Homo sapiens: one gene and its partners. The protein of the gene in region 2 purifies or fractionates together with the protein of the main gene of each other region. This does not show direct contact. Each region holds a gene or a part of one and is shown on either strand. Other genes may lie near its edges. The genes, in order: RFC4, FSCN1 and IMPA2.

What was found.
Region 1: the proteins of FSCN1 (region 2) and RFC4 purify together in Homo sapiens (affinity purification with mass spectrometry; 2 studies listed by BioGRID and IntAct, with this or other methods). This does not show direct contact.
Region 3: the proteins of FSCN1 (region 2) and IMPA2 purify together in Homo sapiens (affinity purification with mass spectrometry; 2 studies listed by BioGRID, with this or other methods). This does not show direct contact.

The regions. Positions count from the first base shown.
Region 1 is NC_000003.12:186,795,420-186,805,338, forward strand, and holds part of RFC4 (replication factor C subunit 4), read right to left. Parts: intron 9,306-9,919; 5' UTR 9,295-9,305; coding exon 9,164-9,294; intron 5,777-9,163; coding exon 5,698-5,776; intron 2,196-5,697; coding exon 2,116-2,195; intron 1-2,115. UniProt on the Homo sapiens protein: Subunit of the replication factor C (RFC) complex which acts during elongation of primed DNA templates by DNA polymerases delta and epsilon, and is necessary for ATP-dependent loading of proliferating cell nuclear antigen (PCNA) onto primed DNA.
Region 2 is NC_000007.14:5,595,721-5,605,639, reverse strand, and holds part of FSCN1 (fascin), read right to left. Parts: intron 2,384-9,919; coding exon 2,227-2,383; intron 2,145-2,226; coding exon 2,023-2,144; intron 1,778-2,022; coding exon 1,610-1,777; intron 369-1,609; coding exon 166-368; 3' UTR 1-165. UniProt on the Homo sapiens protein: Actin-binding protein that contains 2 major actin binding sites. Organizes filamentous actin into parallel bundles. Plays a role in the organization of actin filament bundles and the formation of microspikes, membrane ruffles, and stress fibers.
Region 3 is NC_000018.10:11,975,708-11,985,617, forward strand, and holds the start of IMPA2 (inositol monophosphatase 2), read left to right. Parts: upstream 1-5,799; 5' UTR 5,800-5,962; coding exon 5,963-6,058; intron 6,059-9,910. UniProt on the Homo sapiens protein: Phosphatase that can use myo-inositol monophosphates, myo-inositol 1,4-diphosphate, scyllo-inositol-1,4-diphosphate, glucose-1-phosphate, beta-glycerophosphate and 2'-AMP as substrates in vitro.

The DNA of each region.
Region 1 (9,919 bases), on a different chromosome or scaffold from region 2:
TACTTCACATTCTTCTATTGTTAGACATCTAGATAGTTTTAAATACTGTAATTTTAAATAATGTTATAATATAGCACATTTTAAATTATTTCCGGCCGGATGTGGTGGCTCATGCCTGTAATCCCAGCACTTTGGGAGGCCGAGGCGGGTGGATCACGAGGTCAGGAGTTCGAGACCAGCCTGACCAACGTGGTGAAACCCTGTCTCTACTAAAAATACAAAAATTAGCTGGGCGTGGTTACAGGCACCTGTAGTGCCAGCTACTCAGGAGGCTGAGGCAGGAGGATTGCTTGAACCCGGGATGTGGAGGTTGCAGTGAGCCGAGATCGCACCACTGCACTCCAGCCTGGGCAATAGAGCGAGACACTGTCTCAAAAATAAATAAATAAACAAATAAATAAATAAATTCCACAGGGTAGTTTGCTATAAGGAAACCTACTGGATTAAGGAAAATTAATGGATTAAAACATGAGCAGGTTTTTAAAGTGAGTTTTAATAAAAATTACTAAAAGTAATATATGCTTACTGTAGAGAAATTTGAGAAATCAAAAGAAAAAAGTGGGCACACTGTCAAAGCACTGTTTTTGAAACTTCCCTCTAGTCTTTTACACACACACACACACACACACACACACATTTAAATAAAAAACAAGAGTTGTGATTTAGTTTCATCTCTATTTTTCCTAATCAGCATGGTATCCTAAGCATGTTTATGGACATAAACATTTACATGCATCTATTTTCTATTTTAAAGCCACAATATTAAATATGAAATTCACTGTTAAAGTAAGTTCTTTAAAGACAAACATTATTTCATAAAGGATATAGAAAAAGTTGTATAATCTGGACTGACCTACTCTAAGTAATAATAAACAACTGTTAAGGCTGATTCAGATTGGTTCTATCTGATTGAGTTGTGGAATAATCAAAAAAGTTCTTCTATAATTTTACTGAGAATAAAAAATTGCTGTCAAATAAAATATTAGGCACATAGCAGCTTCTCCCTTTGTCTTTTACATTTTGACATAACTAATAATCCTTACACATTTGGTGATTTCAGTGGCGTCTTTTTTTTTTTGAGACGGAGTCTCGCTCTGTCACCCAGGCTGGAGTGCAGTGGCGTGATCTCGGCTCACTGCAACCTCTGCCTCCCAGGTTCAAGTGATTCTCCTGCCTCAGCCTGCCGAGTAGCTGGGACTACAGGTGCATGCCACCATGCCTGGCAAATTTTTGTATTTTTAGTAGAGATGGGGTTTCACCATGTTGGCCAGGCTGGTTTCGAACTCCTCACCCCAGGTGATCCACCTGCCTCGGCCTCCCAAAGTGCTGGGATTACAGATGTGAGCCACCACACCCAGCCTATTTTCATATGTAGGATTTCAGATATTTCTATCAGTTGTATGTCTGATATTAATTCTGGATAAACTCAAAACAGCCTTTGTTATGTTGGTGCATGTTTCATGTATATCAGACCCAGCCCACTACACATCTTTTAACTCTAGGTAAAGGGCTCCTCTAGAATGGCTGGTTAAGCCAAGATGGTCAATCTAGGAAGAGGAACATAAGAAGGTGACTCACAGGAAGATTTTCTGGTGTACCTGGAATCACACTACATCAACCATCACTTGTGCTCAGGAGACCTGAGGCAAGGAGCTGGACTGGCCACTCCAGAGTCAGAGCCTAGGAAGTCCAGAGCAGGACTCAAGAATGGATGGTGCAAATAGTGCCATCAGAAACAGCAGATTCTATCATGTAGCCACACAGATGTGAACACAATCATTAAGAGGGTGATAAAACTATCAGCACAACTGGACATTAAGTTGGGCCCTCTGGACTCCAAAGTTATAATGGAAAATTTAAAGAAAGTGATGGAAAAAATCATAGGCTCCCCACACTTGAACAAGATTCACAATGAAGGTCACAAAAGACGCAGGCAAGCTGATTTCTTCAGGGGAGTGAGGGAGGAACAAAATGGCTCATGGGATTTTTAAAAATCAGAAATAGAAAACTATCCTACAGAAAACGAAACGCAAATTTTTAGAGGAAAAAAAGCAATATCAGAGAATTTTGGTGTCAAATCTTTAAAAAAAGAAAAACAGACTGATTTCAACGTACCCAAAGAGTTCTCTAGCTGCTGCCAAAATAGTGGATGTTTTTCCAGTTCCAGGTGGTCCGTAAAACAAGAGATTAGGAAGCTGTAGAAATTAAATTTTATTTTTAATAAATGGTATTCTGGCACAAATAGATGAAAAGGAAGATCGAAAAAAATGTCTGTGGAATAGTGCAATGACTTCTCTAATAGGGCACGTAATTTCTAAGTATAAAGTTTTCTTAATATAACTGATATCATAGTACTGACAGATTTAAATCCTGCTTTTTCATATACTACCACTTTTTTCCCCAAGTGTCTTTTTAATCTCTTAAGCTGAACCAATATTTATGCTTGCTCTATAGCTAATCCACTTAGGTGAAATTTTCAAAGCTGGAATGAGAAACCTTTTATTTCTAAAGGGAATCTCAGTTTCCTATCCCACCTCTATGCTCAAGATTAGGTAAGATTTTATATTACACAAAATGTCAGCTGCTTCAAAGGGGAAGCAGACCAAAAGAGTAATGGGATTTGGCCAAAACTGAGGAAAAAGGACTAAAAAAGACATAATTAGGGCTTTGGATGAGCAGAAGTACCAAGAACAGAAATATTAACAAAAAATCCAAAACTAGATATATATTAAGTACTAGGCACTGCTCCACATCATGATTATGCACTCTGTAAGGATGCTTGCATGTATCAGGGAGAATTCATTAGAAGAGGAAAGGATAAAATTAAATCACTAGCTACCTTCTTTTATACCTTGTATCTAGCTAGTTTGGCTCCTATCAAGCAGTCGACTGATCCGTGGTGAAAATTAATAAGTCAACTAAATTCTAATGAGCTCTGTTATGATACTGTGCAATCTTCAGTATGTCCTGTCACATAAGGAAATCAGTGTACACAGGAAACTAGGCATTAGAGTTTGTTTCCACTCTTGCCTAACCCTCCCTCTTCCTGTCCATTCATTCTTCACCTAAATCAGATACCACTCTGCTTGCTACTTAAAACTATTCCACTTAGAAAAACAAAAACAAACCAAAAAACCCTCAGCTTTTTACCATGGCCTAAAGGACTTCCATGATCTGCCTACCACCTCCTTCACCTTCCAGGCTCTAGCTTACAATGGCTTCTAACAGCTTGGCACTTTCTGGCCCGAACATATGTTGCTCCCATGACCTGGAGTCTGATCCTCTTCTTTCTGCCTGGCCAACTCCTAATGCATTACAAATCAGAAACCATTCAGTCTAAAGTAGGTCTCCTCTCCTATTCTCTCATTAGTGTTTGTTGCATTTTGCATTGGTTTATTGTTATTTCACTGTGGGGCTTAATTGTAAAATGCCTGTCTACTTCATTAAAAGACCAAGAACCTTATTTGTTCTATTCACATCTGTATTCTAGCATCTACTACAGTAGTCAATGTTGGCCAAATGAATGAATAAACCAATACATAGACAAATATGTTAATTAGAAGACTATTACTGTTACATTCATAACATATAGCTTACAGAACAAACTATGAGATTCATAACTTAAAAACCTCCCAGGCTTCTTAGTAATTAAGGTCTACAACTATTATTTTGATCTGTGCATCCCTTAACAATGTAACGATTCATCCAGGTTAACTATCAGATACAATAATTTAAATTCTTTGAAACAGGGTAAAATTATTAAACCTTAATTATACACTAGTCTAATATATGTAGTACATTCAAGAACTGTATGTGGAATACCAGTTCTTAAAATCAATTTCTGAAAAAATTATCTTCTTATAATTCTTTAAAACCTTTCAAAATAAATTGAATGAATTGTTTTCCTTTACTCTTTTGAATTAAAAAAACTATTTCACCTCTTTACAAAACTTAGTCTGAAAAGGTGCACAAAATATTAAACTGAAGTTCTTACTTCAGCCTCATAAATTACGTGGCATAAAGTCAAGAACTAGATCTTAGGCTGGGCATGATGGCTCATGCCTGTAATCCCAGCATTTTAGGTGGCCAAAGCGGGCAGGTCACTTGACATGGCTAAACACCATCTCTACTAAAAATACAAAAATGAGCTGTGTGTGGTGGTGCATGCCTGTAGTCCCAGCTACTTGGGAGGCTGAGGTGGGAGGATCACTTGAGCCTGGGAGGCGGAGGTTGCAGTGAGCTGGTATCACGCCACTGCACTCCAGCCTGCGTGACAGAGCAAGACTCTGTCTCAATTACAAAAAAAAACAAAAAAACAAAAGAACTGGATCTTAATCTCACTACATTTGCTGAAGATACTAGTAATTAAATTAGATATTGTCCTGCAATCTGTGTAATTACTATGCAACTGCAATTAAAATGGTATATACTGTTACCAAGATATGCAAGCAGAATATACCAAAAAATAAAATGCTATACTATTATAAAATTAAAAGGTATAAGAGTATTTGTGTTATTTATTTTTTATTACTTATTTATTTATTTATTTTTGAGACCAGAGTCTCACTCTGTCACCCAGGCTGGAGTACAGTGGCACAATCTTGGCTCACTGCAACCCCTCCGCCTCCCAGGTTCAAATGATTCTCCCGCTTTAGCCTCCTGAGTAGCTGGGACTACAGGTGTGTGCCACCACGCCTGGCTACTTTTTCTAATTTTTGGTAGAGATGGGGTTTCACCATGTTGGCCAGGCTGGTCTTGAACTCCTGACCTCAAGTGATCTTCCCATCTCAGCCTCCCGAAACGCTAGGATTACAGGCGTGAGCCACTGTGGCCGGCCAAAAAGGTATAAGAGTATGCGAGTCAAATCAAAACACATACTGGTAAAGAAAAAGATTCTAAATAGTTTTATAAATTTAACTTCTTTCAAAATGTGTACTGTAGTAATATAATTTCAGCAAGGGAATGATGGCAGCAAAACCCAAAAGAACTTCTAATTAAAAGCAGCCAGATTGAGAGGAAGGAAGCAAATCTTGAAACTAAAGCAAAAACCACATCCCACTTCAGCACTTTACTGAGCTGTTAAAGCACTTTGGGCATTCATCATAACACAACTTTAAGTTGCTAATTTTTCACATGGGTTTATCTTATCTCAGAATAATTTACAATGCAAGTTATCCATGGATACTTTATCCCCCAGATCACAGCAGAAGAGAGAGCTATAAGCAGAATTCAAAGCTCGATTTTTTTTTTGTATTATAGGTCAATCCAAATCCTAAAGTTAGTAAGCAATTATACTTTAGAGGAATCTCTGGCTCTTCTTTATAGCACATATTACTACCTATAATTATTTATTGGTTTACTTGTTTATTCTATCTTTCCTTACCAATAAAAACCCATGAAAAAAGGGGCATAGTTTGTCTTGTTCTATGTTTTATGTCTTGTTCTATGTCTATGTTTCATAGTTTGTCTTAATTACTATGACTTTTACTTGAATACTAGGTAACACTGCTATGTAAGATTAAATAGGAGATGCTCAATAAATATTTGAACTAATTATCATTGTACAAATAGTTATCAAGGACCTACTGTACACAGAGCAAGATATTTAACGAGGGCTAGAAGTTATAAAGGAAGAAAGAGGGTGAATAAATTAAGTCTTAAATATCCCAATGACATTAAACACCATTTGCAACTCACATCTGCTCCTTCTAAAGATTTTTTCAGCACTGCAACCACTTCTTCCTGGAAAGCAACTTCATCCACACATTTTGGGCGACTTGCGGGGTGAGAAGGAGGAAAGAGGTTATTTAGTATATTATAGTAGCCACAGAAAACTCTCAAGTGTTCCTTCTACTAAAATACCAATGACCATTCTTAAACATCAGCAATGAAATGAGAAACTTTTTCATAATCGGAAATAGGTGGAAACCCCACTTGTTTTTACCGTAACCAAACACATTCTGAAAGAGTGAAATAATGTTTTACTTCCTTTCTGCATTGCTCGAATCTGTTATACCCACAAAAATTAAAGAAAAAGGATTTTATTTTATATGCTACAAACACTAATTAGAAATTAAAGTGGGGGATTAAGACCATCCTGGCTAACACAGTGAAACCCCGTCTCTACTAAAAACACAAAAAATTAGCCAGGCGTGGTGGTGAGCGCCTGTAGTCCCAGCTACTTGGGAGGCTGAGGCAGGAGAACGGCACGAACCTGGGAGGCAGAGCTTGCAGTGAGCTGAGATCGCACCACTGCACTCCAGCCTGGGTGACAGAGGGAGACTCTGTCTCAAAAAAAAAAAAAAAAAAAAAGAAATTAAAGTGGGGCTGGGTGCGATGGCTCACACTAATCCCAACACTTAGGGAGGCTGAAGCAGGTGGATCACCTGAGGTCAGGAGTTCAAGACCAGCCTGACCAACACGGAGAAACACTGTCTCTACTAAAAATATAAAATTAGCCGGGCATGGTGGTGCATGCCTGTAATGCCAGCTACTCGGGAGGCTGAGGAAGGAGAAGCGCTTGAACCCTGGAGGCAGAGGTTGTGGTGAGCCGAGATCGTATCATTGCACTCCAACCTGGGTCACAAGAGCGAAACTTTATCTCAAAAAAAAAAAAAAAAAAAAAATTAAAGTGAACACCTGCTTAGAAAGCATTATTATTGGCCGGATGCGGTGGCTCACGCCTGTAATCCCAGCACTTTGGGAGGCAGATCACCTGAGATCAGGAGTTTGAGACCAGCCTGGTCAACATGGTGAAACCCCGTCTGTATTAAAAATACAAAAAAAATTAGGTGGGCGTGGTGGCACATGCCTGTAGTCCCATTTGAACCCAGGAGGCAGAAGTTGCAGTGAGCCAAGATCGCACCACTGCACTTCAGCCTGGGCGACAGAGCAAGACTCTGTCTCAAAAGAAAAAAAAAAAGCATTGTTCCACTTTGACAAAATAAGATCATGAATCTTAAGATGAAAAGGGAAAACCATTTAGTAACCTTAGTATAGGTAACTATTTTGGTTAATGTAGTTACATATATACTTAGTATGTGTTAACTGGTTAATGCCAATTTTTTCCATCATCTAACTGCATAAAAAAATGAAGACCTATTCAATTCATTGAGGGCTAACAAAAACAACAAGCTGAACCAATATGAAGTATCATATATAATTTTCATCTTACAACAGTGATTTTTAAGAGAAGCTAGAACAAAGTTACACTTCCAACTCTAAGCTTAGGCTTTGTGCTTAGTTAACTAATCAAAAGTTCTTTGATCCATACTTTTCGATAAATCAGGTTAACACTAGGTAGGAATTATGATTTTTTTTTTTAATGTCTTCTCTTGGGAATCCAGTATATGTTATAAAGCAGGGACTCATATTCAAATACCTGCAGAGATTAAGCAGATAACAAGAGTGAGGAAGGCAGAGTGTGATGCAAGATATAGTAGGGACCATGGCAAATTGAGGAACACACGACCTTTCCAAAAGGAGAAGCAGTACACAAGTCCATATAACTCCTGTCATGTGAGAACCTGCCCCCAGTGTTGCCTGATCTCCTGAGAAGCTGAAAATCCAGACCCTCCTCCACATAATTAAAAAAATCTAGATTTTCATGAGGTTTATTGGTGCCAAACAAAACATATAAGGGGCTGGGCGCAGTGACTCACGCCTGTAATCCCAGCACTTTGGGAGGCCAAGGCAGGCAGATCACCTGAGATCAGGAGTTGAAGACCAGCCTGGTCAACACGATGAAACCTTGTCTCTATTAAAAATACAAAAATTAGCTGAGTGTGGTGGGGCATGTCTGTAATCCCAGCTACTCGGGAGGCTGAGGCAGGAGAATCACTTGAACCTGGGAGGCAGAGGTTGCAGTGAGCTGACATTGCGCCACTGCACTCCAGCCTGGGTGACAAAGTGAGAATCTGTCCCAAAAAAACAAACAAACAAAAAGGCAAGCAAAAAACAAAAACACAAAAAACATATGAGGGCCTTACTCGGCCTATAAGTAATCTGTAAACATTGGTAATTACCGAGGCTACATTCAACCAATAGTTACAATTACTTGTGGTAATATCACTTAGATGACTGACAATTTTATTTATTTATTTGAGACAGAGTCTCGTTCTGTCACCCAGGCTGGAATGCAGTGGTGTGATCTCAGCTCACTGCAATTTCTGCCTCCCAGGTTCAAGTGATTCTCGTGCCTCAGCCTCCCAAGTAGCTGGGATTACAGGTGCCCGCCAACATGCCTGGCTAATTTTTTTTTTTTTTTTTTCCCAGTAAAGAGGGGGTTTCGACATGTTGGCCAGGCTGGTCTGGAACTCCTGGCCTCAAGTGATCCTCCCACCTTGGCCTCCCAAATTGCTGGGATTACATACAGGATTATAGGCATGAGCCACCATGCCAGGTGGTGACTGACAATTTAAATGCTAATTCAAGTGTTGTTTGGACAAAAATGTATGAGCTAACCAAAACTGAATTTCCAGGGCTGGGCGCGGTGGCTCATGCATGTAATCCCAGCACTTTGGGAAGCCAAGGCAGGTGGATCACTTGAGGTCAGGAGTTTGCGATCGACCTGACCAACATGGTGAAACCCCGTCTCTACTAAAAATACAAAAAATTAGCCAGGTGTGGTGGTGGGCACCTGTAATCCCTACTATTTGGGAGGCTGAGGCAGGATAATCACCTGAACCCAGGAGGTGGAGGTTGCAGTGAGTCGAGACCATGCCACTGCACGCCAGCCTGGGCAACAGAGTGAGACTCCGTCTCAAAAATAGTAATAATAATAATAATACTTTCCACCTATTGTAATGAGAAGAAGGAGGAACAGATTACATATTTGGATTTAAGTAGAACTCCTGACCTAGTATTTATAGCCAGTTTACAGAAACTTTTGTTTTCTTCACTTCTGTATCCCAGCCCCTAAAATGGAAGCCTCTGCTTGTAGAGATCTCAGTTTATCTACAAAATAAGGGAGTTAAACTAGATTATTCTCAGGTAACTTTAGTTCCAGGGTTCTATGACTTATATAAGTGGGTGATTTTTTTTCAAAGACAACTTCTAAACAGAACAAAGCATTCCTCCATAAGTTAAAAAAAAAAAAAAGTGATCAGTACTGGTTAGAGAGATAATTTATGAATTATTTTAACAAAGACACAAGTGTTCTTACTATTTTTCCACCCAGGGAACGGGTTTGGCTTTCTTGTTCTCTCCGCTACTTCCCGCACTGGCAGCTACTCCTCGATCCTTGGTCAGCGGGGGTTTAGTACTGATGGATGTACCTTTAAGAAATGCTTGCATGGTACTTCACCCTGGTCAGGTGCAAGACAGAAAAAAAAAGCTTTTATTGAAACTTTTATTGCGAATCAGCACCATAGGAAAGCGGGGGTGGTGGTGGGGAACCATTATGAGAAAGTACAGCCCGAAAATAAACTTAGCCTTGTGCAAAGATGTTACATAATAAAGGACATCACCCCATGACCTAGGACACTCTGAATGCACTGTACTGAGGGCTACAAGAACAGAAAAGTGGTCAAAGTCCCTAACGAACTTAGAATCTATTTCTAGTGCAGGAGTTATAGAACAAAGATCATATGTCACAAAAATGTTTAATGAGTTCCAAATGCATTGATAAATATGATGTTGCTAATGACCAAACCACATGGGCCTCCATGGTTTCTTTCACAGTCATGGGCCTAGCTCTAGCTCAGACCCTGAAATGGACTCTTCGGCAATTAAAGGTGCTCTGCTTGCACCACAAATGAGAACCTTCACTCCTTTCCTTGGGTCAGAACTCAAAGACCTTTTTTTGTTGTTGTTGTTTTTGAGACAGGGTCTCACTCTTTTGCCTAGGATGGAGTGCAGTGGCGGAATCATGGTTCACTGCAGCCTTGACATCCCAGGCTCCTGTCATCTTCCCACTTCA
Region 2 (9,919 bases):
GTCCATAGGGGCGACAGGTGGGGGCACCGTTTTCTCTGGGGTTTCCAGTTTGAAAGGCAAGGGGGCTTGCCTCCCGCCCTGGAGCCCACCTGGCGGAGAAGGGGTTAGCAGGGAGGGTTGGCAGGAGCCGCCATGTGGGCAGGGGCGGGGAAGGACGGGCCGGCCCTAGTACTCCCAGAGCGAGGCGGGGTCCACGGTTTCCGCCGAGGCCTTCAGGACGCCTGCGTGGTCGCCCTTCAGGTAGCGCCCGCCCACCTTGATGGCCACCTTGTTATAGTCGCAGAACTCGAAGAAGAAGTCCACAGGAGTGTCGCCGCTGCTGGTGACCGCGGAGTCACTGCCCACCGTCCAGTATTTGCCTGTGGAGTCTGGGGAGGGGACTTTATCAAGTGGGGCCCAAAGCCTGGCTCCCCACCCCTACCCTGGGCAGCGGAGGGTGGGCACGGGTGTTCCCAAGGGTGACGCCCCACCCTCCAGTCCCGGCTCCGGAATGAGCCAGGGTCCCTATGGCCCGCACGTCCTCCTGTCCATGATGGACACATGAACAAGGGTCCTAGAACGTGTTCTGCTCGGCCGCAGTGGCTCACGCCTGTAATCCCAGCACTTTGGGAGGCTGAGGTGGGCGGATCACTTGAGGTCAGGAGTTCGAGCCAGCCTTGCCAACATAGTGAAGCTCCGTCTCTACTAAAAATACAAAACAATTAGCCGGGTGTGGTGGCTCACACCTATAAACCCAGCACTGTGGGAGGCTGAGGTGGGCGGATCACTTGAGGCCACGAATTCAAGACCAGCCTGGACAACATGGTGAAACCCGTCTCTATGAAAAATACAAAAAAATTAGCCAGGCATGGTGGCTCCCACACATAGTCCCAGCTACTCGGGAGGCTGAGGCAGGAGAATCGCTTGAACCCAGGAGGCAGAGGTTGCAGAGAGCCGAGATAACGCCACTGCACTCCAGACTGGGTCTCAAAATAAATAAATAATAAATTTTAAAAATATAAAAATTAGCCAGGCGTGGTGGTGCACACCTGTAATCCCAGCTACTTGGGAGGCTGAGGCAGGAGAATCACTTGAACCCAGGAGGCAGAGGTTGCAGTGAGCCGAGATAACGCCACTGCAGTCCAGCCAGGGTGAGGGAGTGAGTCTCAAAAAAACAAACAAAAAAACCATGTTCTGAATCCTAACAGGCACCTCTGGATTGTTGGGGGTCCTCCTGGGAAGGGGCTCCAGTCCCATAACCGAGGCGCGTCCTCCCCTGCACACCCTTTCCAGAACCTCCCCACCCCTGCTCTCCTCTCCTTCCCGGCTCTCCCCTCCCCTGCTCTCCTCCCTCCCCTTCCCTGCTCTCCTTCCCCTCCCTGCTCTCCCCTCCACACACCTCTCTGTCAGGTGGGCAAGGTAAGTCCCCCCAACCACACAGACAAGAGGGAAAGGGGCTGCTTGCATCCCAGAGCCCCTGGTGGCCATCAGACACCTGTCCCTTTAGGGCCTGGAATGGCCCTGAGCCAAGCCAGGGTCCAGTGTGGATGCAGAGGGCGCTCCCCGCAGCACTGACCCCAGCCCCGACCGAGGGGTTCCCTGCCCAGCAGCTGCCCACAGGAGAACCTGCCTTTGATGTTGTAGGCGCCATCGTTGAACTCCAGCTGGAAGACGTCATAGCTGGAGCGGTTGGCGTCCAGGGTGCCCGTGACCTTGCGGCAGCCGATGAAGCCATGCTCCCCGCGGAACACGATGATGGGGCGGTTGATGAGCTTCATGAGGAAGAGCTCTGAGTCCCCTGTCCCAGAAAGAGGGGAGTCAGTGAGCCTCCTGGCAGGGAGTGGGGTGGAGGCTGGGGTGACCAGAGAGGGAGGGCCAGGAGCTGGGGTCACACAGCAGTCCCCAGGGTAGGACAGTGCGGGGCCAGTCCGGGGGGATGCCCAGCACAGAGCAGGCCTTGGCTGGGGCTACCAAGTGACCACGGCATGGCCAGACCCTCCAGGACTCCAGGACGGCTCCAGGGAACTGGGGCTTTAGTGTTACCTGCTGTCTCCACCGAGGCGGCCAGCTGCCCATTCTTCTTGGAGGTCACAAACTTGCCATTGGACGCCCTCAGTGTGATGCGCCGGTCACGCCACTCGATGTCAAAGTAGCAGCTGGCATTCCTGGGGGATGGCGGGACAGGGTCAGGCGGGGTAGCCCAGGCAAGGTGGTGGGGGCGGTGACAGGTGGGAGCGAGGCACTCACTTGCTGGAGGCGGTGGACTGCACGCCCCCGGTGGCCGTCAGCGTCCAGTACTTGCCCGTGTGGGTACGGAAGGCACACTTTTTGGTGTCGCGGTCGATCTCCAGCTGGAAGGTCTCCTGGTCGGTCTCCTCGTCCTGATTGGCAGACAGGTCCATACCTGCAGAGAGGAGGCCTTGGGCTGGTACTGGGGCCCCACGCCCCCTAGTTCTGGCAGACCATAGCCCTGAGCTCACAGAACTACACACGCAAGGTAACACCACGGGGTGGGGTGGGCGGCCGAGTCCCCACAGTGGCACACATGAGAAGCAGCAGAGAGCACCCAGGAACGCAGGCAGGGCCGGTCAGAGGCCAAGGCAAGCTACATCTGTTCCCACATGACTTTCCCCAGTTAGAGAAATAATAGGGGCCAGGGACAGGGGCTCATGCCTGTGATCGCAACACTTTGGGAGGCCAAGGCAGGAGGATTGTTTGAGTCTAGGAGTTTGAGACCAGCCTGGGCAACATAGCAAGACCCCCACCCCACCCCCGTCTCTACAAATTACTTTTTTTAATTAGCTGGGAGTGGTGGTGCAAACCTGTGGTCCCAGCTACTTGGGAGGCTGAGGCAGGAGGATCGCTGAGGCAGGAGGCTGAGGCTGCAGTGAGCCGTGATTGCACCACTGCACTCCAGCCTGGGTGACACAGTGAGACCCTGTCTCAAAAAAAACAAAAAGAATCAAGAAACCAACTGCACAAAAGACATTCTTGAGCCAATCAGGAGGGTCTTAACGTGGCCCAGAATTAGATGTTAAGCATTGATTACTGTTGATCACGTTGTGGTTACATAAGAAAATGGCCTCGTTTTTTTAGAAACACAGATGGAAGTATTTTGGGATGAAATGCCCTGATGTCAGGGATTTGCTTCAAATACAACCAAAAATGGTATAGAAAAGGACAAATGGGGCTGCAGCACAGCGGAACAGCGCATCTTGGGGGGCCGTGTCTGGGGGTTCATGCTATTGTTCCTGCTTCTATGTAAAAATTAAAATAAAACACGATGGTACATGTTCCTTTCCTTTAGAAAACTTATAAAAGGGCCGGGTGCGGTGGCTCATATCTCCTGCAATCCCAGCCTTTTGGGAGGCCAAGTCAGGAGGATCATTTGAGACCAGGAGTTCAAGACCAGCCTGGACAACTTAGCAAGACCCTACTTAAAAAAAAAAAAAAGGGGCCAGGCACAGTGGCTCACACCTGTAATCCCAGCAGTTTGGGAGGCCAAGGCAGGCAGATCACCCGAGGTCGGGAGTTTGAGACCAGCCTGACCAACATGGAGTCACCCCGTCTCTACTAAAAATACAAAATTGCCTGAGGCTGAGGCAGGAGAATCACTTCAACCTGGGAGGCGGAGATGGCAGTGAGCCGAGATCACTCCAGCCTGGGCAACAAGAATGAAATTCCGCCTCAAAAAAAAAAAAAAAATTTTTTTTTAAGCCCTGTCTCTAAAACAAAAAAAAGGAAACTATGAAGTCCTACACGTCCCCTTCCCACCCCACTGCAGAACACCCCTGTGTTGGCAAATACATCTCTTTCTTTTTGATTCAGGGTCTTGCTCTGTTGCCCAGGTTGGAGTGCAGTGGCACAATCATAGCTCACTGTAGCCTCGACTTCCTGGGCTCAAGTGATCCTCCCACCTCAGCCTCCCAAATAGCTGAGACTACAGGCACACACCACCACATCAAGTTAATTTTTTTTTCTATTTGGTACAGACAGGGTCTGGCTATGTTGCCTAGGATGGTCTTGAACTCCCGGCCTCACATGATCCTCCTAACTCAGCCTCCCAAAGTGCTGAGGTTACAGACACAAGCCACCATGTGCCCAGCCAGTGAACCCACAACTTTCTAGCTGTTTTTTTCTTATACATAAGAAGCATGCGGGTTGCCACGGCGGCTCACGCCTGTAATCCCAGCACTTTGGGAAGCTGAGGCGGGTGGATCACCTGAGGTCATGAGTTCAAGACCAGCCTTGCCAACATGGTGAAACCCCGCCTCTACTAAAAATACAAAAATTAGCTGGGCATGGTGGGGCATGCCTGTAATCCCAGCTACTTGGAAGTCTGAGGCAGGAGAATCACTTGAACCTGGGAGGCAGAGGTTGCAGTGAGCTGAGATTGCACCACTGCACTCCAGCCTGGGCGACAGAGCAAGAATCCATCTCAAAAAAAAAAAAAAAAAAAAAAAGGAAGAAAGAAAGAAACATGCACAGATGTCCTCTGTCTCTGGATTTGCATACTGTTTTCTGTATGGCATCTTTACATGATTCCATGTCCCTAAAAAGTAGAATGGGACTGGCCGGGCACAGTGGCCCACACCTGTAATCCCAGCACTTTGGGAGGCCGAGGCGGGCGGATCATGAGGTCAGGAGTTTGAGACCAGCCTGGCCAACATGGTGAAACCTCATCTCTACTAAAAATACAAAAAAAAGGACCAGGCAAGGTGGCTCATGCCTGTAATCCCAGCACTTTGGGAGGCCGAGGCAGGCGGATCACGAGGTCAGGAGATCGAGATCATCCTAACACGGTGAAACCCGTCTCTATTAATAATACAAAAAAAAAAAATTAGCCGGGCACGGTGGCGGGCGCCTGTAGTCCCTGCTACTCGGGAGGCTGAGGCAGGAGAATGGCGTGAACCCGGGAGGTGGAGCTTGCAGTGAGCCAAGATCGCGCCACTGCACTCCAGCCTGGGCGACAATGCGAGACTCTGTCTCAAAAAAAAAAAAATTAGCTGGGGGTGGTGCCGGGCGCCTGTAATCCCAGCTGCTCGGGAGGCTGACGCAGGAGAATTGCTTGAACCCAGGAGGCGGAGGCTGCAGTGAGCTGAGATCCGCCACTGCACTCCAGCCTGGGCGACAGAGCAAGACTCTGTCTCAGAATAGGACCCCAGGGATCTCTATCTTCGGGAAACTTAAGGTGGCTTTCGGGTTTTGCTCCCCTAAGCTATAGCAAAGCTGCTATTCTTTTTTTGAGAAAGAGAGTCTCGCTGTGTCTCCCGGGCTGGAGTGCAATGGCACGATCTCGCCTCACTGAAACCTCTGCCTCCTGGGTTCAAGTGATTCTCCTGCCTCAGCCTCCTGAGTAGCTGGGATTACAGGCACCCGCCACTATGCCCGGCTAATTTTTTTGTATTTTTAGTAGAGACGGAGTTTCATTATGTTGGCCAGGCCGGTCTCAAACTCCTGACCTCAGGTGATCCACCCACCTCAGCCTCCCAAAGTGCTGGGATTACAGGTATGAGCCACTGCGCCCAGCCCACAATTGCTATTCATTATAACTACATTGCTTTGCATATCCACATGGATTCCTCCAGCTAAAACCTGGAGGTGGGATGTTTGGCTCCAGCAGCACAAATTCACATTCCCCACGCGCTCTGGATTCTAAGAACTGCAGCAGCAGAGGCGTCTGCCGGGCTCTGTATGGGTGCCTGGCTCAGAGCTGGAGAGTGTCTTCGTTTGGGCACCTTGATGCTGCAGGGACCTCAGCGGTGGGTGGCAGGCAGCACCCACAGGAGAGGGAGGCTGGTGGGTGGTAGAGCCCACACCCAGAGGACACATCCTCAATTCCATTTTTTTTTTAGAGATAGGGTCTTGCTCTGTTGCCCAGGCTGGAGTGCAAGTGGCCCAAGCATGGCTCTCTACAGCCTCCACCTCCTGGGCTCAAAGGATCCTCTTGCCTCAGTCTCCCCAGTAGGTGGGACCACAGGCACTCACCACTACACCTGGCTAACTTTAACATTATTTTGTAGAGATGGGGGTGGTCTCGCTATGTTGCCCAAACTCCAGGACTCAAGCAGTCCTCCCACCTTTGCCTCCCAAAGTGCTGGGATTACAGGGGTAAGCCACCACGCCCGGCCTCCCCATCCTGTTCCATCCTGACCCAACCATGCAGCCCCACATCTGCTCCACAGGTGGGGATCTTCATCCTACTTCACAAAGAGGGAGACTAAGGCCGGTGGTGGCATGTCCTTGCCTAAGGTCACACAGCAAGAGAAAGTAAGGGTCTGGCTGGCTCTCTGGACCGGAGGTGGGTGGCCCTCTTGCCACGCCCTTTCCCTGCCCCACCCTCTTGTCTATGGGTTCCTGGCCCCGCCCCTTCTTGGAACCCCTTGGGCTCCACCCCCCAGGTTCCCTGGGGCCCCTTAAGCCGGTAGCCCACCCTCTGCCCTCCGACGAGCATCCACCGCACTGGGTGGGCTGGCTCAGCCACCACACCCCAGCCAAGCACGGGAGGAGGATAAGGTGAGCAGGGGCTGGGTCCCAGGGTGCCGGGACCATCCTAAGGCCACACCCCAGGGAACACGAGGGCTGGGGCCTCTGCTCACTCAGCCCTCCACCAGCCAAGAGGCCCTGCAAAGGTCTGGCCCGCCCCACCCCCACTGCACAGAAGCCGCAGGGCTGCAGGGAGCCGTCAGGCCAGCCACACCCGCACAGCTGCCCTCACCGCCCCCTCATTCTGCTCAGAAGGGCCTGCATGTCTACCTACAGGCAGGGGCCGCACCCTGGGCCCTGGCCTGTGCCGGCCACAGAGCACCACCTGTCCAATGCGCTGGGGCTCCGCTGAAGCCCCGCTGATCGGAGGGAAGTTAGGGACCAGGTAAGAGGACAGCCTCCTGCAGGCCCACCCCAGCAGCAGAAAGGATGGAGGGAGAGGTTCTAGGTCCACCCCAGCAGCAGGAAAAAACAGAGGGCATCAGGGGCTCCAGGTTCCCCAGAAAGAGGGGCAAAAGGAGAAGGGGAGACAGTGGAACAGAAACCACATTAGCACAGCCTCGTCCTAGGGTTTACAGGGCTCGTCCTCACACAGCCTTGCAAATAAGCAGGGCGCTTACCAGCCCGCCTGGAACAAATGCAGGAAGCCGGGAGGCTCCTTCTCAATGAGACTTCCAATGGCTGCGCAGGGCTTAACTGGCGGCAGCCACGGGGCCACGTGTGAATGCACGTCGGCCTTAATCCTCCTGGCAACTCCATGAAATTTACACTAACCTCATCCCCCAAGCCAGAGAAGAAAGGGAGCTTCCCAGCCATTCCTGGGCCCAGGGCCACACAACTGCCGCCATCTGTACCACGACTCAGTCCCCATCAGCCTGTTGCGTTCAATCCTGGAACTGGTTTGATGCAAAGGTTTAGGCCAGCCAGTGAGGCACCCACCGCGGGGGGCCAGGCACCCTTGGATGAGTGCCTTCCCTGCAACCTTCCTCAGTTTCCCCACCTGTCAAAAGGGCCCAGCCTCTCCGCTCCGCCAGGATGTTGAAAGGATTTAGGGGCCTGGTGCCACGTAGACATCAGGCCACACCCCAGCAGGGAGGGATAGGGGAAAGGGGTGTCGTCCCCCCAGTAGAGCAGGGCCCCTCCTGGCTCCAAGGCCCTCGCTTGGCCTTGGAGTCTCTAATTAGAGCTGTGTTACTATGGGAACAGTGTTTTCTTCAGGATTTTTCTTTTCATCAACAGAGGCACAGAAATCCTGAGTCACAGGCCCACAGAAGCCCCCGGGAGCCAGGAGATTAAGAGTCTCCTGTGCCGGGCCCACGGGTACCTCTCCCTCCTCCTTCCAGAGAGGTCTAGCCCTGCCTGTCCTCCCCTCACAGTGGCCTTCCCTGTTTCCAGCCTTTGAGCCATCCTCTCTTTTTTTTTTTTTTAACTTTTTTCTTTTAATTATTTTAATTACAGTTTTTTGTTTGTTTGTTTTGGTTGTTTTTTTTGTTTTGTTTTGTTTTTTGAGATGGAGTTTCACTCTTGTTGCCCAGGCTGGAGTGCAATGGTGCGATCTCGGCTCACTGCAACTTCCGCCTCCCGGGTTCAAGGGATTCTCCTGCCTCAGCCTCCAGAGTAGCTGGGATTACAGGCATGCGCCACCACGCCCGGCTAATTTTTGTGTTTTTAGTAGAGATGGGGTTTCTCCATGTTGGTCAGACTGGTCTCAAACTCCCGACCTCCAGGTGATCCACCCACCTTGGACTCCCAAAGTGCTGGCATTACAGGCGTGAGCCACCGCACCAGGCCAAAAAAAATTTTTTTAAGACAGGGTCTCGTTCTGTTGCCCAGGCTGGAGTGCAGTGGCACGATCTCGGCTCACTGCAGCCTCAAACTCCCCGGCTCAAGTGATCCTCCCATCTAAGCCTCCTGAGTAGCTGGGACGACAGGCGTGCATCACCATGCCTGGCTAATTTTTTGTATTTTTTGTAGACAGAGGTTTTGCCATGTTTTCCAGGCTGGCCTTGAACTCCTGGGCTGAAGCCATCTTCCCTCCTTGGCCGAAGCCATCTTCCCTCCTTGGCCTCCCAAAGTGCTTGGATTACAGGCGAGAGCCAGTGTGCCTGGCCTTCTGAACCATTCTGTCTGTGGTGGCTCAGAGGGGCACCCCCTGGTTGCCTCACACCCTCCAGTCCCCATCACCACCCCCAGGCCTTAACGGTCCCCAGATGCCCCTGGCTTGTTCAAAACAGGCACTCCTTCCATCTCATTTAGGGGAGGGGGCCTGGAATGTTCTATGGCTTCACCTTACCACCCCGGTTTCCAGTCGATTCCTGCAACTACTTGGCCATTTCAAATGCCTCTGCATCCTTATACAAGCCATTCCCTGGGCTCAGAATGCCCTGCGCCTCGTGGGGAGAACTCTTACACATCCTGCAAAGCCCAGCTTGACGAGCCCTTCCTCAGTCAGCCCTCCTCAGAGTGGCTGGGAGAGGGCATGTCCCAAGCCAGCAGGGAGGACAGGTCCTATCCCTGGCATGGATCCCCAGATGCAAGCACAGGCTGGCGGGAGAGGACTCCCAGATGTGAGAGATGTGAGAGAAGACAGGAAGTGTGGTGAGGCATGGCCCAGGGTCGGGGCCAGGGTAGGTGTGGATCCTGGGGAGCAGGGAGGAGCCTGGGGCATGGCGGGAGGACAAAGGAGCACTCACTCAGCTGACCCAGCCTCTGGTGTGAAGGGCTGAAAGCCCCTGCCCAGGGCAGCTCTGGGCCAGCCCAAGGAGGCCTGGAATGCACACTTTACAGATGGGGAAACTGAGGCTGAAGAGCAGGGCGCAGCGTTTTTCAAAGGGGAGCACCCTGCCCCCACCGGGCCCGCCCGTGCAGGCCTGCAGAGATGATTCACATCCCCCCTGCCAGCTAAGTCCGGATCCTCCCCTTCCTGGCTGGCGTTCCCCAGCATGTGTGTCGGAAGCAGACGCCTCCCCCTTGCCACGCAGGCCCGTCCAAAATGGCCTCTGCAGACACGCCCCCCACGCCCACCCCTGCAGACTCCAGTTCCCAAAAGCCCCCCGGGAGTTGGCTGACATAGAAACGAGATAAGGACCCCAAGATCTGAGGCCAGAGGAGCCCCAACCTCGGCCCCCAAGTACCCCCACCCCCGCGCCGTCCCACATCCCTTTCAACTCCAAGCTGAGCCATCACCACCACCTCTCCTGGCTGCAATTTCTGGTTCCTCCCACCCTATCAGCCTGAATCACACACCAGACGCCCCCAGCAAGCTTCTCAGGAGAGGGGAGTTATCTGCCCAGGCTCGCCAAAAACACCCTCAGGCTCTCTGCAACTTCCTGGCCCCCAGGGCCAAGGCCACCTACTTCTGCGACTTCTTCCCCACGGGAGGCTGTGGCTGCAACCCCAAGGCAAGGACCATAGCCCTGCACTAAGCTCTCACCCAAGGTCCCGTGGCCCAGAC
Region 3 (9,910 bases), on a different chromosome or scaffold from region 2:
GGGTACTCACGGACACAAAGATAGGAACAACAGACACTGGGGATTCCAAAAGGAAGGAGGGTGGAGGGGGTCAAGTGTTGAAAAACTACCTATTAGGTATTATGTTTGCTGCTTGCGTTACAGGATCATTAGAAGCCCAAACATCAGCATCACACAGTATACCCTTTTAACAAACCTGCACATGTACCCTTTGCATCTAAAATTAAAAAAAAATGATTAGTCAGCAGGGTTGGTGTCTTCTGAGGCCTTTCTCCTTGGCTTGCAATGGCCACCTTCTCACTGGTCCTCACGTGGCCTTCCCACTGTGTGCATGCACTCCTGGTGTGTTTTTCTGTGTCCAAATTCCCTCTTTTCATAAGAACACCAGTCAGATTAGGGCCAACCCTGATGAACCCAATTTAACTTAACTACCTCTTTAAAGGCTCTATCTCCAAATATAGGCACATTCTGAGATTCAAAATTCAGTATATAAATTTGGGAGCAGGGAGTGGGGTGGTACAATTCAGCTTCTAATGTCAATATTCCACACTTCGGTTTAAGGATGGTCAGACATTATTCTCAACCAACTTCTAGGGATTTAGATGAGCTAAAACAAAAAAGCTCCTCAAATGTCCAAGTCAGCATGTCTTGGCCCTGGAGAATAAGATTAGACTTTTTTTTTTTTTTGAGACGGAGTCTTGCTCTGTTGCCCAGGCTGGAGTACAATGGCACAGTCTCAGTTCACTGCAACCTCCGCCTCCCGGGTTCAAGCGATGCTCCTGACTCAGCCTCTGGAGTACCTGGGGTTACAGGCGCCTGCCACCATGCCTGGCTAAGTTTTGCATTTTTATAGACACAGGATTTCACCATGTTGGCCAGGCTGGTCTCGAACTGCTGACCTCGTGATCCACAAGGCTCAGTCTCCCAAAGTGCTGGGATAACAGGCATGAGCCACCTCACCGGCCGAGATAAGATCAGATTTCAAGGTAACCTGGGGAAGCTGGAGAAGTGGATGGAAGAAAAGAACACTACCTGACATTTTGTTTATTTAGACTCTGCTTTCTTCCATAAAGAACATGAGGGGAGGGAACTCCCAGATTAATAAGGACATAAAGTCTGTCCTGACTGTCCTTTCACCTTCTCACTGCCACTGCCCTGGCTTCTTGGGCCCTGACCCAGGCACTGTGCATGTGGCCTTCTGGTGACCAGAGCCTCACCAGAAGGACTGTGCCCTAGGGTGGGGGGTGGGGAGGGGTAGTTAAGATACAGTTTTTCAAGGCAGAGTGCAGTACGCTAGGGGCTTAAGGAAAGTTCATGTGGCTTCCAGGGCCTCTGAAGGAGACAGTGTGCAGACTGTGGTGGAGGCCAGCTGGGGAAGAATATTTTACATCTCCACAGAGAGTCATCATTGACGCATGAGTGATACGCATTATTCATTAGAAAAAGCTGATTTCTGCCGGGTGTGGTGGCTGACTTCTGTAATCCTAGCACTCTCGGAGGCCAAGGCGGGGTGGGGAGGGGGTGGGGATCTTTTGAGCCCAGGAGTTCGAGACCAGCCTGAGTAACAAGGATGACACCCCATCTCTTCCAAAAAAAAAATGAAAATTAGCTGGGTAATTTAGGAGTCTTCCTAAGGATATAATAAATATATGTCTTTTTTCTTAGGCAGCAGATGGTGGCCAGCTGTTCTCTTATTACTGATGACCAAACATGAAGAAAAAAAATTGTAGTAAGGGGGCTTATAATAAATATAAGACAGAACTTAATAAACTAAATCTGGATTTTTATACACACAAAGGAAAATGGGCGGCTCTGGAAAATTATCAAATTATCCAAGCCAAAATAGCTTCTCCATTATCTATGTAACAAAACATTATTTATGTGGATTGAATTGTACAAATAATTGTCTAATATTTTGGGTCTCTGAGTAGACAATCTGGGTGGTCAATGATACAGATTGAGGGCCCTTCAAGGAATATTTTAGAATGGGAAAAGCGTTGATGCTCTTTGCCATTTGACTGGGGGCATTTCTACTGAGATGCAGGTGATATTGATCACATTTGTAGATACACGATTCTTTGACCAGGATTTGGGCCCGTTACAGTAAAATCGTAACAATTTTTGCTTAATGTTTGAAATCAACTTTTAATTGCAAAAATAATGCACTCTTTCCTCTAAATTTTCTTTTCTTTCTTCTTTTTTTTTTTCCGAGAAGGAGTCTCGCTCAGTCACCCAGGCTGCAGTGCAGTGGCGCAATCTCGGCTCACTGCAAGCTCAGCCTCCGGGGTTCACGCCATTCTCCTGCCTCAGCCTCCCGAGTAGCTGGGACTACAGGCGCCCTCCACCACGCCCAGCTAATTTTTTGTATTTTTAGTAGAGACGGGGTTTCACTGTGTTAGCCAGGATGGTCCTGATCTCCTGACCTCGGGATCCGCCCGCCTCGGCCTCCCAAAGTGCGGGGATTACAGGCTTGAGCCACCGCGCCCGGCCACTTTCCTCTACATTTTCTTTTCTTTCTTTCTTTCTTTTTTTTTTTTTTTTTTTTTTTTTTGATACGTAGTCTCGCTCTGTAGCCCAGGCTGGAGTGCAGTGGCGCAATCTCGGCTCACTGCAAGCTCTGCCTCCCGGGTTCACGCCATTCTCCTGAGTCAGCCTCCCCACAGCTGGGGACTACAGGCACACGCTGCCACGCCCGGCTAATTTTTGTATTTTTAGTAGAGACGGGGTTTCACAGTGTTAGCCAGGATGGTCTCGATCTCCTGACCTTGTGATCCGCCCACCTCGGCCTCCCAAAGTGCTGGGATTACAGGCGTGAACCACCGCGCCCGGCCATTTTTTTGTATTTTTAGTACAGACAGGGTTTCACCATGTTAGCCAGGATGGTCTCCATCTCCTGACGTCGTGATCCGCCTACCTTTGTCTCCTAAAGTGTTGGGATTACAGGCGTGAGCCACCGCGCTTGGCCTATTTTTATTTTTTGAGATAGAGTCTTGCTCGTGTCACCCAGGCTGGAGTGCAGTGGTGCAATCTTGGCTCACTGCTACCTTGGCCTCCAGGGTTCAAGCAATTCTCCTGCCTCAGACTCCTGAGCAGCTGGGACTACAGGCACATGCCACGATGCCTGCCTAATTTTGTTTATTTTTGGTAGAGGATAGGTTTCACCATGTTGCCCAGGCTGGTCTTGAACTCCTGACCTCAGATGATCCTCCTACCTCGGCCTCCCAAAGTTCTGGGATTACAGGCGTGAGCCACCACACCTGGCCGAACAGATATTTATTAAACACCTATTGGGTGCCAAGCGGTATGCTGATTGCTTGAGGCTACCCACACTGGTGCATAAATGACCAGTCTTTAATAATAATAGCAAACACATACGTTCCAAGCACAAGTACATTAACCCATACAATGGTTACAAAGACCACTTTACAGTTGAAGAAACAGGCAAAACCGGTTATTTTTAACTTGCTCAAATCCACACAGTAAGGAAGAAGAGAGGCCAATATTTTAATTTAGGAAACCTGGCTGCTTCAAAGCCTCATGCTGTTAAAAACCACACTACGCTGCCTTAAGATATGTCATTTGGGAAAGAAAGTTAACTCTTTTTCCAGTTGTTTAGATAAGCTGGGATCTATCATGAAAGTTTATCTAAAGATATAACTGAGCTTCCAGATGGGGTGACAGTACCAGGAGCACAGGCAGAGGTGTTCAGAAAGGAGAACTGGGAAGAGGCGGAAGAGACATTTTGCCACTTCTTTGTTTGCTTGGTGTTGGAAGTGACCGCTAATGAAAACCTGTCATGAAAATCAACAAGAGAATGCATTTCTTTTAAAGTAACGCATTCACAGCACAATCTTAAGTGCATTCTGAAGTCCTGCTGTCTTTTTTTTTTTTTTTTTTTTTTTGCGACGGAGTCTCACTCTGTCGCCAGGCTGGAGCGCAGTGGCGCCATCTCGGCTCACTGCAACCTCAGCCTCCCAGGTTCAAGGGATTCTCCTGTCTCAGCCTCCCGAGTAGCTGGGATTACAGACACCTGCCATCACGCCCAACTAATTTTTGTATTTTTAGTAGAGACGGGGTTTCACCTTGTTGGTCAGGCTGGTCTCGATCTCTTGACCTCGTGATCCGCCCGCCTCGGCATCCCAAAGTGCTGGGATTACAGGCGTGAGCCACCGCACCCGGCCTCTGTCTTAAACATCATAAAAACATAAGAACCCAAAAAAGATGGAGGGGAGTGCGCCCTTAGCTGCCCCAAACTGGCGTGGTGGGAGGCAGGGCAATTGGTCTAGTTTTCTGAGCCGTAGGATTAGGGCTCTGGGTGAGGCCAGAGTCCCTAAAGTTGTACCCATATCTGCGTGTTTGTATTTCCTGTTTGTAATTCCTCCTGTTTGTACTTTTTGTCTCTTATACGGTACACTTAAAGTTTCTCCACAAGGTGTTTCAGCATAAAGTACTCAAAAACTAAAAACGTTTAATTTCATTATTAGGTTAAGTGTGTAAAAAATGCCCCATCAAGGTTCTTGTACAAACTCCCATTATTCTCCCAGACTCCGAAGTGGCACTCCAGAATAATTTTACGTGGGTTAGCATCTTTTATAAAACGGGCAGGCAGAGCGGCTTATGAAATTAACCTTGGAAACCACGCGGCCACTCTTTCGGGAAATGCCTCCTATTTATGTTTACATGGGCCAGCAAGAGAATCCAAGGTTGGAAAGGTCATTCCTCACTACAGAGGCTCATCGCAATCACAGTTCCGTCTCCAAATTCGAGTTTTGGGTGTGAAGAGTTTATAAAGTCCAGCCGCTGTCCTCGCAGTGTTTGGGGTTAGCGGAGGGAGAGCTTGTTTGCGACCAAACTTGCCGCGCGGGGCGGCCGCTTGCAGGAACACTGCGGCCTTGTGCGCTCGGCGGTCTGAGCTCCTGCGAGGCCGAGAACGACGCCTAGCGCCCAGCGGCCTCCGCGAACAAAAAGCGACCGGTCGGAAGGTGCTGGCCCAGCCGCCCCTGGCGCTCGAGCCCGAATCCGGCCACAGACCATGAAGGGACGCCCGGCACCACGTGCGCGGGGATCCGCGGACGGGACGCTCCCCGGCACCTCCGGGGCTGGGCCGGCACCGCACGGTCCCACCCAGACAGTAGCTGCCCCGGGCCCCCAAAACAGCCGCTCCTAGCTCCTCCCTCCCAGCTCTGCGGTGGCCCAAGCCGCCCTCCGCGCGCTTGACCCAGAACAGTACGGAGTTCTGCACGAGCCGGGGGTGGGGCCTGTCTCAGCGCGCGGCGGTGGGGCGGGGCTTGGACACGGGCCCGGCTCAACTTGAGGGAGGCGGGGCTCGAGGCTCAGAGGAGTTGGAGCCCGCTCTGCGCGCTGCGGGACGGGGCACGGCGGAGCAGGGTTGGGTCCGCCTCGAGCGGGGAGGGTGATGCTGCACCACAGGGGCGGGGCTGGAGGTAAAGCGCGGAGCGGAGAGGGACCAGGCTCGGCACTGATTTGTGTTCAGGGCTAGCCCAGAGGGGCGGGGCCAGGTACGGGGCGCAGCCGGGAGCGGGAGGGGCGGTGCAGGACGGGGCCGGGCACGGCGCGGGAAGAGGCCAGGAGCAGCAACGGGTGCGGGGCGGGGCCGGGAGCGTCAAGGGGCGGGGAAGAGGGGGGAATGGGCGGGGCCGAGCTCTGCGAGGGGCGAGGTGGGGAATGCAGAGCGGGGCCGGACGCGGGAGCAGGGAGCTGGGCGGGGAGCGGGGCGGGGAGCTGGGCTGGGCTCGGCACGGGGCGGGGCGGAGGGTGGGGAGCGGAAAGCAGGACGCACGGCTCCCGCGGCCCGCTGGCTGCCCTTCCCGCCAGCGCAGGTGTGGGACGGGCGGCGGACTAGGCACAGAGCTGCGGGAGCAGGCACAGGGAGTGTGGAGCCTGGCGGCGGGACGGCGGGATCCGGTGGGAGCCGGAGTCCCGCCGAGGGGGGCTGGAGGTGGAGGGGCCCGGCGAGGCCGCGATGAAGCCGAGCGGCGAGGACCAGGCGGCGCTGGCGGCCGGCCCCTGGGAGGAGTGCTTCCAGGCGGCCGTGCAGCTGGCGCTGCGGGCAGGACAGGTGAGCGCCACGGCTGGGCTCGGAAGTCCGGGCGGAGCAGAAGCGCGTGGGCCTTGGGAGCCGCCTGGAGTGGCGGGGTCCTGGCGCGCAGCCGGCGGGCGCCCAGGGTCCGCACCCGAGGGCGCGGGGCGCGGAGCGGTGAAAGGAGCCTTTGTGCTGGTGTCCTGGACACACCTCCCGCGCCCTTCTCCAACTCCCGGAGCCCTGGCGGCGAGCCCCTCTGCTTTGGAGTTCAGCGGCTAACGTGACCTTTGCGTTTGAGTGAGTGGTCAGAATGTAGAAATCTCTCCAGGGGTAGCGTACGGGGCTGTTGATTTTTAAGGACCTATGAACGGATTCAGCTCGCGGTAGGAAGCCCGGGGCTAAGCCCCAGCCGCGTGGGGATCTGGCTGGGCTGCCGTTTGATTGTCCTGGCTGCAGCATCCTCAACCCAAACTTACTCTGACCCACACCCTGAAAGTGGCTCAGCTCCGCGACGGCCACGGACTCAGAGTTCAGGAGGAACTTGTTACACTGCCCGGAAGGATGAAAACCGAGCCGCAGAGCTACCGAAAACCAGCGAGCAGAGTTTAAAATGGAGTGCAGTTCCTCTCTTCTCTTTTTCATTTTTGTGATTGTTCCTTCCACTTTCCTCAGTACCTTTAGCAGTGCCTGACACACCGACGGTAGTGGTAGGCAAGCGAGTGTTGGTTCTCCCAGGACTGTAAGATGGCTTACTCCATGTTTGTCTCTTAGGATGTGATTGTGGGCCGGGCGCAGTGGCTCACGCCTGTAATCCCAGCACTTTGGGAGGCCGAGGCGGGTGGACCACTTGAGGTCAGGAGTTCGAGACCAGCCTGACCAACATGGTGAAACCCCGTCTCTACTGAAAATACAAAATTAGCTGGGCATGGTGGCGCGTGCCTTAGTTCCAGCTATTTGGGAGGCTGAGGCAGGAGAATCACTTGAACCTGGGAGGCGAAGGTTGCAGTGAGCTGAGATCGCGCCATTGCACACCAGCCTGGGCAACAAGAACAAAACTCCGTCTCAAAAAAAAAAAAAAAAAGTGATTGTTTTCGGGGATTTTAGAGACAGGAGGTGTGCTGAGAGCAGATTGGCCTTTTATATTCAAACATTTGTTTTCTTTTTTGAGGTCTGACAGTCCGAAAATGCTCTACCAGTTTCCCTAGATGTTGAAATCGGACTGTTATCAATCTTAAATTTGAAGTGAGTCGTCATAAAGTGGATAGTGCTTTACCTTGGTGCAAATCCTCTAATCCTGTTTAAAAATTAATCTGCAATACTAAGTAGACTCATTTTTTGTTGAAGGGCCTTCCTTCCCTTTGTAGTTTGAAGAACCCAAGCCTCAGACCGTAAAGAATGAATGAATTTAAGAGTGTTGCGAAACTCCACCCTTTGACCTTTCCCTCCTGTAGGAAAAGGAGGACCCTAAACCTTCCTGCAAGGCAGATGAAGCTTGTAGCTTCAGTGCAAGCGTTCTTCCTGGAAAGCAGAGCTGCTGTGTGCATGGAACACGGGTTCTCCTTCCATCCTTCCCTGCCTCCCAGCTTTCCTTCCAGAGCAAGCATCAGCCAGATATTTAGGAACTTTTAGGTTCTACTGTAAAACTTTTCTTCCTTGAGGCAGTGAAAAGCCAGCTTAGGATTCAGACATTGCTGTGTAAACCCTGGCGAGCTAAGTTAGGAGTTTCTGTGGTTTTCAAATTTAGATCCTTGAAGAAACAGAAGATTTTAAAATTTTATGTTATTATTTAACAAATGTGCATAAAGAGCTTGCAATAGAGCAGGAACAGTTCTAAGGCTCCTATGACTTTTAACTTAAGAGATATTTTATGTTTTTGCAACTTGCCAGCAACAAAAAAAGCTTTTTTTAAACGCTGGAGAGGGTTGCAATAAAGATGCTGCCATTAGGAGTCCGGTCAGGAAGCCCGGGCCGCCCGGGGCTCCCCCTCAGGCATTATGCTGATGCTTCCTGCCTGCCGGGCAGTGCTGAGGGAATGGCCTGAAGGTCTGCTGCTGGGACAAACAGAAGCCACACGAGGTCATCGGAACCTGTGTAAAGAGGGACAGATTGTCTTCTAATGCAATCGGGGGCTGACTGGAGAAAACATATCCTTTAGCCAGATGACCTGGTTCGGGGTGTAAAGGTCGTGAGTGGTGATCCTTTTGGAGTTCTCCTTAGTGAAGAGCATGTTGGCAAAGTCGCAGGGCCCCCAGATGCTCACCCTTCACTAGCACCCAGCATTCTACCACTCTGTTGTTCGCTGCTCTCAGCTGCCCCTGAGATGGAGTCTGTGTTCTAGATGCGGAAAGGTGAGGGAGCCGAAGGAGAGACCTTCCAAGAGATAAAGGTGCACTGTCCTTTCTCTCTTAGACTGGTTCCGCTCAAGGTGGCCCTGGAGAAACTGCTTCCATTTCCCCTCTGCCCCAGTTCTGGCAGGCTTCCCTGTCCCAGGCTCCCAATTCCCTCACCTGCCCCCTCCATGCTTCTGTGCCACTCTTCCTTCCGTGACCGTGGGGATCATCCCTGCCCTCCTAGTTCCAGCCACCCACACTGTGACGGGAGCCTCCTCCCTGGCTGTTGGGCTTTTGGGGAGGGAGTGACCACAGCCCCACCCCAAGTACAGATGACAGTATTCACTGATGTGGATGGTTGTCATCTTTTGTGTGATGTGTGAACAGAAGTATTGTAGACAGCTCTGCCTTTCAAATCCCCCCGCGGAGCTGAACCAGCTTCTGTTGGGCCAGAAACTTAGACAATTTAGGGGGCCCTCTTTAAGAAAATACAAACTTTGCCAGATGTGGTGGCTGAAGCCTGTAATCCCAGCACTTTGGGAGGCTGAGGCTTGTGGATCACCTGAGGTCGGGAATTTGAGACCAATATAGTGAAACCCCATCTCTACTAAAAATACAAAAACTGTGGCCGGGCGCGGTGGCTCACGCCTGTAATCCCAGCACTTTGGGAGGCCGAGGTGGGCAGATCACAAGGTCAGGAGATCAAGACCATCCTGGCTAACACGGTGAAACCTCGTCTCTACTAAAAAATACAAAAAATTAGCCGGGCGTGGTGGCGGGCGCCTGTAGTCCCAGCTACTCAGGAGGCTGAGGCAGGAGAATGGCGTGAACCCGGGAGGCGGAGTTTGCAGTGAGTAGAGATCGTGCCACTGCACTCCAGCCTGAGCGACAGAGCAAGACTCCGTCTCAAAAAAAAAAAAAAAAAACAACAAAAATCAGTCGAGCGTGGTGGCACACGCCTGTAATCCCTGCTACTAAGGAGGCTGAGGCAGGAGAATCCCTAGAACCTGGGATGTGGAGGATGCAGTGGTGAGCCTAGGTTGCACCACTGCACTCCAGCCTGGGTGATAAGAGCGAAACTCTGTCTCAAAAAAAAAAAAAAAAAAAAAAGAGAAAATACAAAATTACAAATTCAAACTTAGATATAAAAGTTATTTAGAATAAGAACAATCACATCTATAAATTTCTAAGGTGCTAAGAAATACTGCAAATATCACGAAATACACAAAAATAACAATTCTTTCACTGCTTCTCATACTTCCGTAATACTTTTTGCCCTTTTTCTGGTTTCATACTGTTTGCATCTTTTGAATGATAATGATTTTGTAATACTTTATATGGGGAGAATAGAAAGATAAATTCAGCATTTCCTGTTGCTTGGCTTATTGAAATTTATTACTGATAATTTAGAAAATTTAGGCTTCAAACTTGTTACTGGTAACAATTGGCTTATAAATTTTTAGGATGTCATCAAATTGAGAACCTTCTATGAATTTTTTTATACATTAGTTGTAAGTGAGTCTGTTTTTCACAGACTTGCTCCTGGCTCTGTGCAGTT